2 linked regions of the Homo sapiens genome follow. The protein of the gene in region 1 purifies or fractionates together with the protein of each later gene. This does not show direct contact. Each region holds a gene or a part of one and is shown on either strand. Other genes may lie near its edges.

Region 1 (6,081 bases):
AGGAGTTCAAGACCAGCCTGGCCAACATGGTAAAACCCCGTCTCTACTAAAAATACAAAAAAATTAGCTGAATGTGGTGGTGGGCACCTGTAATCTCAGCTACTCTGGAGGCTTAGGCAGGAGAATCACTTGAACCCGAGAGGTGGAGGTTGCAGTGAGCCAAGATCACGCCTTTGCACTCCAGCCTGGGCAACAAGAGCAAGACTCTTTTTAAAAAAAACAAAACAAACAAACAAAAAAAAACTGAAACCTCTGCTAGACACCAGGCTGCCTCCCAATGGATCTAGAGTTACCAGGTGGCCTATGATGGTGTCTAGATCCAGACTCTAGAGACAGACTAAGTCAGTGTTCTCTCAAGGGAGATTTCCCAAATGGGTGGCAGTTATAAATGCACACATGAGCCTTCACTGCCCCAAAGGGCCACGCCAATTTCAGCTACCAAGAAAATGAACCATGTCATTACAAGTGCCTAATTTTCAAGAAGGAGAATAATAAGCCCTTAGCACCCTAATTTGGTTTTCCCATAGTGGTTTCTGCACAAAGTGGCATTCACACACAACATTCCAGGGACCAGCCGCCAGCAGCAAAGATGCGGAGACACGGCTCTGATTATCCAGCTGAGGCAGCCCCTCCCCTCCCTGCCACTCCTGGGACTCTTAATCTCCAGGCCTCGTTTTATTTTATTCTAGGTATTTATATTTCCATGAAGCATCTGCTTTGTTTACTGGTGTTTGCCCCATGAACATGGGCTTCCAAGGGACTAAAGCCCTATCAGTCCCTCTCACTGATGTGCTCCCACCCCAGTGTCCAGAACAGTGCCTGGTACACATAGGCCCTCAATAAACAGCTGTCCAGCAGATGCTGGACCCCCTGGAGGTGGGTCCTCCTCTCTTTTCTTAGCTCACACTCTCCTGCTTCTTCTTCAGCAATGAGCAGCTTCAGCTATCCTGAGCTCAGTCCCAGAGCTGAGGACCCTCCTTGCATCATGATCTCACCCCCACCTGATTTCAGATACAAAACGAGTATCTGTGGAACCCTACTATTCTGGCACATGGTTACATTGTAGACATTAATATTAAAACTTATTTATATGAAATGTTCTTATGTAAGGTTTCGTTAAAGTATATGAAATATAGGACACATTGATACTAATTCCTTGTTTTTCTTTTTCTTTCTTTCTTTTTTTTTTTTTTTTTTTTTTTTTGAGACAGAGTCTCACTCTGTTGCCCAGGCAAGGCTGGAGTGCGTTGGCAGGTCTCGGCTCACTGCAACCTCGGCTTCCCCAGTTCCAGCGATTCTCCTACCTCAGCCTCCCGAGTAGCTGGGATTACAGGCACGCACCACCATGCCTGGCTAATTTTTGTATTTTTAGTAGAGACGGGGTTTCACCATGTTGGCCAGGCTGGTCTGAAACACCCGACCTCAGGTGATCCGCCTGCCTCGGCCTCCCGAGTTCTGGGATTACAGGCGTGAGCTATCGCGCCCGGCCTCCTTGTTTTTCTTGAGTTTACATATAACTGAGGTTTCTTTTTTCTTTCTTTTTTTTGGGGGTGGGGGGACGGAGTCTCGCTCTGTCACCCACGCTGGAAAACTGGAGTGCAATGGAGCAATCTCGGCTCACTGCAACCTCCGCCTCCCCGGTTCCAGTGATTCTCCTGTCTCAGCCTCCTGAGAAACTGGGATTACAGGCATGCGCCACCACGCCCAGGTAATTTTTGTATTTTTAGTAGAGACGGGGGTTTCACCATATTGGTCAGGCTGGTCTCGAACTCATGACCTCGTGATCCGCCTGCCTTGGCCTCCCAAAGTGCTGGGATTACAGGCGTGTCACCGCGCCCGGCCGACGTCCTGTATTTTTATTTGCTAAGAGTGGCGATCCTAGTCTGGGACATACTTGTACTAAACATATTTATATTAAAAACAATGTTTTAACATACTACTCTTGGACACTGTATAAAACGGTTGCGTGTCTGGAATGCCGTCGTTTTGCCCCGCGGCCCCATCGTACATGCGCATCCCCGCAGCCGCCACCGTCTCCACTTTCCGCAGCAGCGTCCCTGACGCTGCGCGACCCGTTGCCAAGGCGACTGGAACCGCGGCCCGAGGTAACTGGAGGGCACGGCGGGGGCGGGGCGCTCATCCCAGGCGGCTTCTGATTGGCCTCGGCCGCCTCGTGCGTCACAGCCCCGCCCCTGCCCGGGAGTCCCGCAGCGGTGACTTGTCACCGACGCCCGGCGTGATCCAGCGGACCAATGGCGGCCGCCCGCGGCGCGCAGGGTGCGGGGATGGGGTCCGCCCGCGGCGTTGGGCGCGCTCGCCAGCCCAGGGGTCGCCATGACCGAGTGGCCCAGGCCCGAGCGAAGCCCGCGCGCGGTGAGTCCGCCGCGGCCCATCCGTCCCTCCGCCCGCCAGAGCGTCCATCGGGACGCCCACCCGGGAGGGTCTCGGCGCCGCGTCGGCGGGAGCTGGCCCGGGATCGCGGTCCAGGGGCGCGCGTCGGGGGAGGCGGGCCCGGGCCCGGGAGGGGGCGGGCCGGGCCGGGGTTCCAGAGCCCATCGGGAGTCCTGAGGTCGCCGTAGGGGAGGGAAGGGGAAGGCTAGAGGCCACGCGGGGCGGGGACTGGGGGGGCTGGGGCCGCCCCTTCCGCAGGGACCCCGACCCCTGTTGGCATCCGCCTGTCCGTTTGAGGCCGAAGCCCCTCTACGTACCCCCATTGCCCGCCCAAACACCGCTCGGCCGCGTCCAAGTTCTCCCTTCCACACCTGATCAGCATCCCGGGACCTATCTCCCTCCTGAACAGCCGCCCCCGGACCCATCTCCCTCCCTACCCGGCCCCTTGGGCCCATCCCCCACTGGAACAGCAGCCCCCGACCCGTCTCTCTCCCTACAAGCTCCCCCTCCCCGCCCCAGGCCCATCTCCCTCCTGAACAGCCGCCCCCGACCCATCCCCCACCCAATCACCCCACCATCCTCCCCCCAACCAGCCGTCCACAGCCGTCGTCGCTGCCCCTCCCCTGTATTCCCAGTGCGCTGCCCTTGCACACTTCCCCAGCTCGTTTATTATGGAACTCCTCCGTGTGGCATCCTAAGCTCCCAACGCCCTCCCCACTGTAAGCCCCCTTCTCAAAGCCAGAACCATTCACTGACTGGCGCAGTGAACACGTCTTCTATGTCACTAAGCATCCGGCATCAGCGGCAAAGCCCTTCTGCCCATCCCCGCAATAGAATTTGGGGCTCGGGCTGCAGATCTCAGTGCCCATGCCAGGTGAACCTGGCCCTTCCACAGGCACTGAGCCCTCCAAGTGACACTCTCTCACACACACACATCCCCAACATTAATCAGAGACCCCTACCAAAGTAGACTTCTAGGACCCCAGGGCCACCACAGCATTGCCCATGGGGGGGCCCAGATCCTCCTCACCAGCCATGTAGACCTCAGTCCCCTTCACATCATCCCAGGCCCTCTTCATCTTCCAGAAACAGCCACCCATCAGTCCAGGACTCTCATCAGCTCAGGTACCCCCACATTGGCCTAGGTGTTCCACATCAGCCCCCATATAGACCCCAGACACACCCATGGACCTCTGGTGCCTTCTGCTAAGACCTCCTCTTTACCCTCATCCCTGATAAACTTAGCATCTCCTCCCACAGACCTCAGCCCAGGACCCTGGAGGATGCTGAGGGGCTACAGCCCCCCTCCCTAGAGTCTCCAGGGTGAGCTGCCATGAGCACCTGAGAGAGTATAAGGTCTGAGGCCCCAGGGCAAAGGGATTTCTTGAACCTGTGGAGCTTCAAAATAGGCCCTTTTTTCTTATTCAAAACTACATATATAAAAGTGTGAATACAACATAAGAGAGCATTTTTGCCTGTGGCCTTGGCAGGGAAGACCAAGCTGGTAGTTTCCCAATCAGGGTGCAGGTGGCCGGGTACGCTGACTCGAAGATGGCTGGCTGGGCACAGTCCCCGTGAGTTGCCTTTCTGCCACCCTGCACCTCTCCTTTCTCCTGGATTGTAAAACCAGATGCACGAGAACTGCAGAGTGTATGAAAAATGCAGCAGAGGATGAAGAGGGAAAAATCCCATGGAATCCCTCCTTTTCACTTGTCATAAGCATTTCCCATATGGTCAAAAATCCTTCCTAAAGATGTCTTGTTTTGTTTTGTTTTTCCATGTTGATGAAGGTCACATGGGAGCCCGACACCATTTGGAGGAGATTCAGAGAAGTATGAACAGCACAAAGCACTTGGCCGCCCCCCATGGGCGTCTTCCCAGGACTCCCTTTCTATGACACTCACGCATCATCCTGCATCCCACGTTCCCTGTGCCTCATGTCATCTGTACATCATGTGTCTACTCCCCGTGGTCATGTCATAGTGTTGTGTACTGGGCACGGTTGAATACTCCCATCACATGATGGGGGAGGTAGTTGATCCCACCACGTTCAACTGTTGGGCACTTTTGTAGTGAATCTTGGTGCCTGAATCTCGCATCTTGCACGCAGTCTACCAAGTGTTCTTGATATATAAATGGCCACAGTGCTTTCCAGAAAGGTCGTGCCAATTTATATTCTCACCAGCGGATCAGTCCAGAGTACAATTGTTAAAGACAAACAAACGAAACCTCCCTGCTTATTTTTATTTTTACAACTTTTAATGTTTTCTTCAGTTATATGTTCACCATAGTCGGCTTGGAAAATGTACAAAAGGTAACTTCTTTTTTTTCTTTTCTTTTTTTTTTTTTTTTTTGAGACAGAGTCTTACTCTGTCGCTCAGGCTGGAGTGCAGTGGCACAGTCTCAGCTCACTGCAATCTCCGCCTCCTGGGTTCAAGCATTTCTCCTGTCTCAGCCTCCCGAGTAGCTGGGATTACAGGTGCGTGCCACCACGCCCAACTCATTTTTGGTTATTTATTTTTTTTGGGATGGAATCTCACGCTGTCACTCAGGCTGGAGTACAGTGGTGCGATCTTGGCTTACTGCAACCTCTGTTTCCTGGGTTGGAGCAATTCTCCTGCCTCAGCCTCCCACGTAGCTGGGATTAGAGGTGTGCACCACCACGCCGGCTAATTTTTGTATTTTTAGTAGACGGGGTTTCGCCATGTCGGTCAGGCTGGTCTTGAACTGCTGACTTCAGGTGATCCACCCACCCGGGCCTCCCAAAGTGCTGGGATTACAGGTGTGAGCCACGGCACCCGGCCACAAAAGGTTATTTTAAAATTACTCTTCCCACTTTCCCTCTCTTTTCAGAGTCTCCAGTCTCCCTTGCCCTCTTCCTGGTCTCCACCCCCAGCTTGGACCTGGTAGGAAAGTCAGGAAGACAGCAAAGATAACACCATGGGTAGACCTGCTGCTGGTGGTGGTGTCATCCATTATTATGTAGCCCACCTGGCTGCTTCCATTTAAATGGAATTTAAATTTAAAATTCAGTTCCTATTTCAGGTGCTCCTAGCCACACGTAGGTGGTTGCATGGGTAGAGAATCTTTACATCCCTGTAGGAACTTCACTGGGCAGTGCTGGCCACACCACGGGGCAGGCATTCTTGTTCCCGCAGCTCGTCAGTCAATGTGTGTTGAATGACTAAATGAGAGGGAGATAGACACTAAGTAAGGGGAAAAGTTGTGTTCAGAAAGTCATGGAGGTTATGAAGACAGTGCCATAAGGATGATGGCCAGGACATCTGCGAGGGGAGGAGCTGGGGTGGGAAGGGGAGGGGCTGGGGTGGGATGGCAGGTGCAAAGGTCCTGGGGCAGCCAGTGGCTTGAACTCAGTGCAAAGTAGCCTGTGAGAGGCATGTGGAAGATTAGGTCAGAAGGTGGGAAGAGGTCAGGTTGGTTCCTTGGGGTGCTGGAGGTCAGAACAAGGAAGTAAGGAGCCGAGGGGCATCCTGAGTACAGAGGGCCACCATCTGATGTGACCCCTCTGTCCCTGCCCCTCTCTGCAGGCCCCTGATTGCTGATTCTGTCCGCCTGCCACACCGGCTCTGTCCGGAGCCACTGGGACTCGGGATCCAGTCCACACACACCCCTCAGAGGGGCACTGTGGCCAGAGAAATGCTTCCACGGCCCAAAGCCCCTGCCTCCCCC
Region 2 (3,834 bases), on another chromosome or scaffold:
AAGCCACTCGGCTGATTTGTAGCATCCTCATTCCTGTCATTCTTCACGTTCTCCCCTTTACTTCCTTTGAGGGTTTCAGTGGTTTCTATGAAAGTTGACCTCTAGATGGTTATCAGCAATTCCCAAGGTAAACGGGTCATTATACAACAGTGAGAGATCAAGCTTCCCTCAGTCCTGATGGATGGAATTAATGGATGGGGCTTGTTCCTAGGTGGCCGTTTGTATGCAGGGGCAAAAGGTGCTCTTGGAGAAAACTGGATCTCAGCTTGGAGAACAGGAACTGCCAGACTTTCAACCGCAGACTCCTAGGAGAGATCTCAGGGAGAGCTCTCCAGCAGAGCCTTCCCAGGCAGGAGCTTATGACCGGCTGAGCCCCCATCATTGGGAGAAATCCCCACTCCTCCAAGAACCAACCCCCAAATTGGCTGGGACAGGTAAACACTCTGCCTTTTCTCTCCCTCTCATCAGCCCTTTATCTCCATCAATGTATCTCATGGTTCTGCAAAGGCATAGACCACATGTGTGTGTTTTTTTAAATGTTATATATAATAGTAGATGATTATTCACTAAACAAATTTCACTAATTAGGATGGTGGTGATACTACAAGTAAGTATGTTTTTATCGTTTTCTGTTAATGAAAATTTAAGAATCCAGTGCATGACAGGGTTGTACCTACTTTTCTGTCCGTTTCAGAACTTCTTATAGAAAAGACAGATCCAAATATGGCCACAGATGAACTTCCATGCAAGCTATGGCTGAGTTTCATTGCTTAAAATGCTCCTCTGTTTAGAGGGGCCTGGTAGAAATAAAAACCCACCCTATATCTTATATCTTTGTCCTCCTCTGTGATGTTGCTTGTACTTTAGATCCTCAAATCTATTTCCCTTTCTCTGGTGTGATACTTGTGTAACTGCTGGCCTTGTTCTACACAGTCCTGTGATCTCTAAGCCTGAATGACAGTGACATTTTGGCCAAGCCTGGTGATGTGAATACAAGATACAGTGAGCACGTTAGGGAGGAGGGTTACAAGACGACAAAAATCCTCAGTTTCTTAATATTTGCTACATCCAATGAGGTACTTCGTGTTTTAGTCTGTTCAGGCTGCTAATATAAAATGCTAGAGACTAGGTAGTTTATAAACAACAGGAGTTTATTTCTCACAGTTCTAGAGGCTAGGAAGTCTGAGTTCAAGGTGCCAGCATGGTTGGGTTCCAGTGAGGCCCCTCTTCCAGGTCACAGACTGCCTACTTCTCAGTCCTCATGTGGCAGAAGGGGAAGACAGGCTCCCGTGGGGCTCTTTCATGAAGGCACTAATCCCATTCCAGTGAGGGCAGCACCCTCATGACCTAATCACCTCCCAAAGGCCCCATGTCCTAACACTATTACCTTGGGAGTTAGAATTTCATATGAATTTGGAGGAACATAAACATTTAGCCCCTGGCAACCACAGTCTACTTTTTGTCTCTAGAATTGCTTATTCTGAACATTTTATACAAATGGAATCACACAGGCCGGGCACAGTGGCTCACGCCTGTAATCCCAGCACTTTGGGAGGCCAAGGCAGGCGGATCACTTAGGCTCAGGAGTTCGAGACCAGCCTGGGCAACATGGCGAAATCCTGTCTCTACAAAAAATGCAAAAATTAGCGGGGCATGGTGCTGCACACCTGTAATCCCAGCTGCTTGGGGGAGCTGAGGCAGGAGGATCACTTCAACCTGGGAGGTCGAGGCTGCAGTGAACTGAGATCGTGCCACTGCACTCTAGCCTATGTGACAAAGTAAGACCCTGTCTCAAAAATAAATAAATAAATAAATTGAATCACACAATATGTGGTCTTTTGTGTGTGGCTTCTTTCACTGAGCATGTTTTCAAGTTTTATCCATGCTGTAGCATCAATCAGTGCTTCATTCCTTTTCTGTGGCTGAATAATAGGCATTGTACGGATATATTACATGTTGGTTTTCTGTTCATGTTGGTTCATCTGTTCATAGATTTTTGGGTTGTTTCTACTTTTTGGTTATTATGAAGAATGCTGCTATAAATGTGTGTTTTTGTGTAGACATGTTTTCATTTCTCTTGAGTATATACCTAGGAGTGGAATTACCATATGCTAGGTCATGTGGTAATTCCATGTTTAACTTATGAGGAACTACCAGACTGTTTTCCAAAGCAGCTACACCATTTTACATCCCCACCAATACTGTGTGAGGATTCCGATTTCTCCACATTCTTGCTAGCACTTGTTATTGTCTTATACCCATCCTATTCGGTGAGAAATTTTGATTTGAGGTTTTGATTTACATTTCCCTAGTGACTAATGGTGTTGAACATCTTTTCATGTGCTTATTATCCAGTTACATATCTTGTGTGGAAAAATATCTGTTCAGATCCTTTGGTCATTTTTAAATTAGGTTATTTGTCTTTATTTTTTATAAGAGTCCTTTATGTATTCTAGATACTAGACCCTTATGTGTAATTTGCAAATCTTTTCTCTCATTTTGTGGGTTGTCTCACTTTCTTGACAGTGTCCTTTGACGCACACGTTTTTCATTTTGCTGCAGTCTAATTTATCTATTTTTTTCTTTCTTTATGCTTTGGTGTCATATGTAAAATAGCACTGCCTAATCCAAGGGCACAAATATGTACAGCTATGGTTTCTTCAAGGAGACATAGATTTAGCTCTTACTTTCAGCTATTTGGTCCATTTTAAGTTTATTTTTTCCCCATACATAAACAAGTCAATTTTTATATAGGTTTTGAGGTAGGGGTCTGTCAATCTGATCAGGGGTCTGTCTTAATCTGATCAGGCTCTTACAACAAATTGCCTTAGACTAGGTAATTTATAAACAACAGAAATTTGTTGCTCATAGTTCCTGGATACTGGGAAGTTCAAGATCAAGGTGCCAGCAGATTTGGTGTCTGGCGAGGGCCCATTCCTCATAAATGGTGCCTGCTATGAGTCCCCACATGGTAGTCTCTTGGGTTTCTTTTATAAGGACACTAATCCCATTTATGAGGACCCCACCCTCATAACCTAATCACCTCCCAGATGCCCCACCTCCCAAGACCACTGCACTGGGGACTGTCAATATATGTGTGTCAGGGGACAGGGGGGATAAACATTCAGACCATAGCAGGGTCCAACTTCATTCTCTTGTATGTGGAAATCCAGTAGTCCTAGAATCCTTTATGAAAAAGACTATTCTTTTCCCATTGAATTGTCTTGTCAAAAAGCAATTGACCCTGATTGTATAGGCTGATTATTTACATTTGAATTTAAATGAATTAAAATTAAAAAAAAATTTAAAATTAAGTTCCTTAGTCACAGTAGTCACATTTCAAGTACCCAGTAGCCACATAGTCACATGTGGCTAGTGGCTGCCATATTGAACAACGTGCATGTGCCTGTGCATGCACGTGTGCACACACACATTTTCCACATCACAAGGGATCCTTCTCCAGATCCTGTGATTTCCCATAGGCCGTTCCAGCTCATCTCCATCCAGACTGTCAATCCTTCTGTAATTAGGATACATGGCTAAGCCCTGATTCCAGTTTCTGAACTCATATACTGTCAAATTTGTAATGAAAGAAAACATCACAGTCTCTGAACTTACCATCTTTTGAAGAGAAGGTGGTTGTCAATTAGTGTTTACTAAGTGAGGGGTATTTGTTGAAATAGCTCAGGCATTGGACTACAGCAGTAAAATTTGCAATGTTGAGATTTCACCTCTCTTCCTTCTTCATTAGATACCCAATTCTGATGGGTTTGCTTTTCCCTGTTCTTCATTTCCTAAACCTTTCCCTAAAGGGAGAAAGGAAGAAGGAGGATG

The links.
Region 2: the proteins of ZSCAN1 (region 1) and ZNF174 purify together in Homo sapiens (affinity purification with mass spectrometry; 3 studies listed by BioGRID and IntAct, with this or other methods). This does not show direct contact.

The regions. Positions count from the first base shown.
Region 1 is NC_000019.10:58,031,789-58,037,869, forward strand, and holds the start of ZSCAN1 (zinc finger and SCAN domain-containing protein 1), read left to right. Parts: upstream 1-2,236; 5' UTR 2,237-2,373; intron 2,374-2,954; exon of another isoform or gene 2,955-4,181; 5' UTR 4,182-4,223; exon of another isoform or gene 4,224-4,694; coding exon of another isoform or gene 4,695-4,705; intron 4,706-5,939; coding exon of another isoform or gene 5,940-6,048; coding exon 6,049-6,081. UniProt on the Homo sapiens protein: May be involved in transcriptional regulation.
Region 2 is NC_000016.10:3,404,215-3,408,048, forward strand, and holds part of ZNF174 (zinc finger protein 174), read left to right. Parts: intron 1-211; coding exon 212-434; coding exon of another isoform or gene 435-559; exon of another isoform or gene 560-694; coding exon of another isoform or gene 695-774; exon of another isoform or gene 775-1,827; intron 1,828-3,834. UniProt on the Homo sapiens protein: Transcriptional repressor.